Linked DNA regions of Homo sapiens: region 1 is linked to region 2. Evidence: fine-mapped expression QTL. A gene starts in region 2. The other region holds a variant in brackets. All regions are shown on one strand. Distances are from middle to middle. Region 1 holds the start of GMIP (GEM interacting protein). Region 2 holds the start of ATP13A1 (ATPase 13A1).

Region 1 (2,798 bases), 20 kb after region 2:
CAAGGTCAGGAGATCGAGACCATCCTGGCTAACACAGTGAAACCCCATCTCTACTAAAAATACAAAAAATTAGCCAGGCATGGTGGCGAGTGCCTGTAGTCCCAGTTACTCGGGAGGCTGAGGCAGGAGAATGGCGTGAACCCAGGAGGTGGAGCTTGCAGTGAGCCGAGATAACGCCACTGCACTCCAGCCTGGGCAACAGAGCGAGACTCCAACTCAAAAGAAAAACAAACAAGTACTGACTCTGTCATGCTCTTTGGGGGCCTGCGCTGCTCTACCATCTCATGTCACAGTCAGGGAGCTCTGGCTGAGCATCAGCCAGGATGTGACCTGGAAACCTGGCTTGGCTCTTAGGTTGATAGTGTTATTCCTTTCAATGGACTCACTCATCACAACTCAAGAACTGCAGAGTAGGCAGCACGGAGCCAGTCAGAGAATCCTTGCCTCCTTAACAGCCAAAGCCTTTGGACACAAAGTTATAAACATACTTTAAAGTCTATTTCCAGCCCCAAAATTCCACTGTGCTGGGGGTGGGAGCATTTTTATAACAGGCGGCTTGTGGCAACCCCAGAGCTGGTGCTTTTGGACAAACCTCCACTCCCTACCTAAAAGGGCTGCTCCCTGGTGTGCTGTAATTGGGGCCTTGAGCCTGATCCAGCTTTGAGGGTCACGGAAGGGGCGTCCCCCAGGCCAGGGGTTCTCCAGCCCGAGTATTAGAATTTTGGTTGGAATCGGACAGAATATCAGGCCTCCACCAGGGGGCGCCATGGCTCCAGCGAGGCCCAGGTGGTTTCAGGGCTCCGAGAGACAACCTGGGCAAGGGGATCACCAGGGTCGCGGGTTGTGGGAGCTCCTGGGAGAGGCCCCCCGGGACAGGTGGACTCTGCAACCATTCAGGGAGGAGGGGGCTGGGGCTCCGTGGGATTTGGGGTAGCACAAAGATCTGAGAGGGAACCTATGGCCCAGATGAAGTCTTAGGATGCCCAGGTCAGGGGCACTGCAGCCTCGAGTGGTCGCTCAGGGGGCCCTGGCCCGACCCAGTTTCAAGCGGCTCAGGTAGAGAAGGGCACTATCAAGGCTTCCGGGCTACGGGGGCGTGGTCTGATGCGGGGGCGTGGCCTCCGCTGGGCAGGGCGACGCGGAACCGAGGCGGCGGCGGCGGCTGCGGCGGCAGGAAATCGGGGCTCGGCCCCGCCGGCGCGCGACCCCATCCCCATCCCGGTCCCTGCAGAGCGATCCCCGGGCCCAGATATGGACGCAGCAGAGCCGGGTAGGGGGTCGGGGATCCGGGAGGGGCCTCCCCCGACCATCCCCTGCTTCCTACATTGAGGGCACACACTTGTCCCGCTCCGTCCTGAGAGCCAGGAGAGGAGTTCCTGAATGGGAAGGACCCAGGGATCCTCCATTGTGGGGAGCCCTGTGCCCGGATGGGTTCAGGAC[C/G]CCAGCCCTTCACTCCCCCTCCCCCTTTTGATCCCTCACCCCAGACGCCTGGGGGAGGGGGCCCAGGAAGGGGAAGTGACTGCTTCTGCTTCTGATTTTTGTGATGGGGGCAGGGTGCCACGACTGCTGAGGGAGAGGGCAACGCGGTAGGATCCCCACAGGGCCCCTCTGTAGCCCTGGGGAGTCGGCAGTGCTGGTCTAGGCCCCTTAGGAGAGGGGGCAGGGGGGCAGCAGTAGAAATGTGGCGGGGTCCGACTTGGTGTTTCCGGCCGTCTTTGTGTCTGTGTTGTGTATGTGGAGTGTCATTCGGTCTTTATGTCCCTCACGGCTTCAGTCTCTCCATGTGTGTTTCTGCCCCAGGCTCTGCCTGGCTGTCCCTTGTGTATTTCCATCTGTCTAGCCCGTGGTTCCATTGTCAGACCGGCTTTCTTCTCGGGACAGCCTGGTTGCATCTGGGGCATCTGTTTTGTTGGTTTGCTTCTGGGTGCAGGCAGACCCAGGGAGTGGGTGTCTCTGTTCCCCGAGCAGCTGTCTCTGGTCTCTGGTGGTGTGTGAGTCCATCTGCCTGCCTCGAGTTGGCCCCAACCAAGCCCCCCCCAGCCCTCTCTTTCTCTCTCTCACTCTTCCCTTTCTCTTCCACCCCCTCCAAATGAGACTGGTTGAGGTGCCGTGGGTGGAGGGAGGCAGTGGTTAGCCCATGTATTACACTCCCCTCCCCTAGGACTCCCCCCAGGTCCTGAGGGCAGGAAGAGGTACAGTGACATCTTCCGGAGCCTGGACAACCTCGAAATCTCACTGGGGAACGTGTGAGTCTGAGCCTGGATCACCCCCAAATCCTGCCAAGATGCCCCAAGCCCCTAACCATTTAGGTGCCTTGCAGTCCCATTTGGAACCTGTAACATCTGGACCTACATACCTAATAACCAGAGAAGTCTAGGATGGGACCCTCCAAAATGCCTCGGTATCCTAAAAGTGTCCCCCTAAATAGACTGGAAATCCCCAAAGTGGTCCTAGAACCCCTACATATCCTTGTAACCCCTTAAAATATTTGCGATCCCTATAATCCCACTCTATGAACCTCAAAGTTATCTGGGGCCCTTCAGATGCTTTTTCAAGTCCTATTTAAAAAAAACTCACCTGATTCCCCCAAAACACCATTCTTCAGACCTCCCAGACACAAGAGATGCCACAGAGGTGATGTTTGCCACAAACAACCCTAAGGTCCCCAGCACCCCTTGGCAGGACAGACTGGGTGTAAGGTGGCATCCTGACACACCTTTATCCCCCAGGACCCTTGAGATGCTGGCTGGAGACCCTCTACTCTCAGAAGACCCAGAACCTGACAAGACCCCTACAGC
Region 2 (2,798 bases):
CCGCCTCGGCCTCCCAAAGTGCTGGAATTACAGGGGTGAGCCACCGCGCCCGGCCTAGAAGTATATAATTTCAAGTAAACACCAGTTTTTCATTTTTTATGTTAAAGTGGTAATTTCTTTTTTTTTTTTTTTTTTTTTTTGGAGACAGAGTCTCGCTCTGTCGCCCAGGCTGGAGGGCAGTGGCACAATCTCCGCTCACTGCAAGCTCTGCCTCTCCAGTTCGCGCCATTCTGCCTCAGGCTCCGGAGTAGCTGGGACTACAGGCGCCCGCCACCACGCCCGGAGAATTTTTTTTTTTTTTTTGTATTTTTAGTGGAGACGGGGTTTCACCGCGTTAGCCAGGATGGTCTCGATCTCCTGACCTCGGCCTCCCAAAGTGCTGGGATTACAGGCGTGAGCCACCGCGCCCGGCCTAAAGTGGTTTTTGTAATTCATTTTTCTTTTTTTTTTTTTTGAGACAGTCTTGCTCTGTTGGCCAGGCTGAAGTGCAGTGGAGCAATCTTGGCTCACTGCAACCTCCGTCTCCCGGGCTCAAGCAATTCTCCTGCCTCATCCTCCCGAGTAGCTGGGATTACAGGCATGTGCCACCACGCCCGGCTAATTTTTGTATTTTTAGTAGAGACGTGGTTTCACCATGTTGGGTCTTGAACTCCTGATCTCAGGTGATCCACCCGCCTCGCCTCCCAAAGTGTTGGGATTACAGGCGTGAGCCACCGCGCCCGGCTAGTATTTGTAATTCTTATCTATCACATTAAGGCTCTTGTCCGGTGTGGTTGTGTTCCGGGGCGGTCCCCGACCCCGCCCCTCACAAGCCCCGCCCCCCGCACCGGGCCCCGCCTCCTGAACTCCGAAGCTCCCGACCCCGCCTCCGCAGGGTCCAGGCTTCGCCCCTGGTGACAGGTGGTGCTGGTGTAGTCAAGGAGGAGGGCTCGCTTTTTTTGGTTCAGGTTGTCATGGTGGCGCCCAAGCCCGCCTTGCCGGCCTTGTCTTTTCCGGTCTCAGTCCGGCGTGGCAGCGGAGGCAGGCACCGTTAGGTCTTCCAGTCCCTCTCTGTCATGGCGACGCCCAGCCTCTTCTTCCGGCCACAGCCTGTCATGGCGGCACCCGAAGTAGTCCCTGCCGGGGCCAGCCTGTTCTGTTGCCCTGGCTCTTCCTAGTCCAGGCTGCCATGGCGGCGCTCAGGGCTTACCGGAAGTAAAACTTCGGAAGTGAGGCGTTCCTCTGCCCGGAAGTGAGCGCGGCGCTAGGAAAGATGGCGGCAGCGGCGGCGGTGGGCAACGCGGTGCCCTGCGGGGCCCGGCCTTGCGGGGTCCGGCCTGACGGGCAGCCCAAGCCCGGGCCGCAGCCGCGCGCGCTCCTTGCCGCCGGGCCGGCGCTCATAGCGAACGGTGACGAGCTGGTGGCTGCCGTGTGGCCGTACCGGCGGTTGGCGCTGTTGCGGCGCCTCACGGTGCTGCCATTCGCCGGGCTGCTTTACCCGGCCTGGTTGGGTGCCGCAGCCGCTGGCTGCTGGGGCTGGGGCAGCAGTTGGGTGCAGATCCCCGAAGCTGCGCTGCTCGTGCTTGCCACCATCTGCCTCGCGCACGCGCTCACTGTCCTCTCGGGGCATTGGTCTGTGCACGCGCATTGCGCGCTCACCTGCACCCCGGTAAGTGTGTACACGCGAGCCCGACCCCCAGCACGGTCGAGCCTCGCCGTGGGTCCCAGCTGCGGCCTTCCTGTCGGTCACCATCGCGACCTGGGCCACTCATCTGCCTGGCCTGGATTCCCAGGGGCACCCTCTACACTTTGGCGCAGGCTTAATCATGACCCCACTGCTGACTTGCTGTGCATGCCTGGTGCGGGTTATTTCCTTTTTCTGAAGTCCTCCCTGTTATGGTCATTTAGATTCAGTGATGTAATACTTGTAAAAGGCTTAGCGCAGGGCCCAGCATACGTCGCCCAGGTCAGGTAGGAGTTGTTTATACTAGTTCCCATATTAGCGACTACTCTTGTTCTGGAAACGGCCCTACCTTCCATCTCATCTGTCTCCTACCTTGGTTTTCAAAGTGTAAGGCGAGATCACTGGGATAGGTTTCCCCCATCTATGAAGCTTAGTTGGTTCTTAGACTGAACCAAGTCTTGCTGTCCAGTGCTTAGTGGTCTTCCATACTGTGATGGAAAGGAGCATGAAATGCAGTTAATTACAGTGTTGAAGAGAGGCAGAGGTGTTTATGAGCGAGTCATTTACATGATGTCTTTCCGCAAAATGAGGGTGGTGATACTGAGTTCTGTCGGGGATACAACAGCAAGCAAGGTCGCGCTCCTGACCCACAGTTTAGAGTTCTGAGTGACCAAGTGTCGTCGGAGGAGTTGGTGACTGTGAGCTTCCCTGGGCCTGAAGCAGTGACTGTGTCGTCTCTCTCTGGGCCTGCCTCAGGTGACACCAGCAGGTTTGGAGCCATGGACACTGAGGTATATCAGGAAGCTTCCCCTCTGATTCCAGGAGTGTGTTTGCCTCAAGAAGAGGAAAAGGGAACAGCATCAAGGGCTACAGAAAGACAGAAGCCCCCCACCCTGGCTGGCTCTGAATGTGGGTAGAATCCTCATTCTCCTCTCCTGAGAGACAACCTGTTCTGTCCTTCAAAAAGACTTATCTATCCCAGGGGAGGAGCTCAACGTGGTAGCTTTGAGGTAGTACAATGAAAGACACCAATGAGGGACAAAATAAAGGAGGGGTTAAGGGGACTGTGGCACCGCTCAAACTTCAGCTGCCTTTTGACCTGCAGCTAAGCAGCTTAGCTCTTAACTTCCTCTCC

Evidence for each region. PIP is the estimated chance that this variant, and not a neighbour inherited with it, causes the effect.
Region 1: its variant is fine-mapped to the expression of ATP13A1 in whole blood (TOPMed, PIP above 0.99).

Annotation. Positions count from the first base shown.
Region 1 is chr19:19,641,983-19,644,780 of GRCh38, reverse strand. GMIP (GEM interacting protein) reads left to right here and starts at 1,124. Exons shown (of 21, transcript NM_016573.4): 1 at 1,124-1,270; 2 at 2,162-2,246; 3 at 2,730-2,798. The coding sequence starts at 1,252. RefSeq lists a silencer at 1,031-1,280 and enhancers at 1,911-2,070, 1,292-2,247. The variant C/G (reference allele first, on the strand shown) is at 1,441.
Region 2 is chr19:19,662,121-19,664,918 of GRCh38, reverse strand. It overlaps ATP13A1 (ATPase 13A1), which reads left to right and starts at 1,243. Exons shown (of 26, transcript NM_020410.3): 1 at 1,243-1,648. The coding sequence starts at 1,253. RefSeq lists silencers at 757-806, 1,247-1,506 and enhancers at 907-1,196, 1,540-1,641, 913-1,895, 2,027-2,076, 2,777-2,798.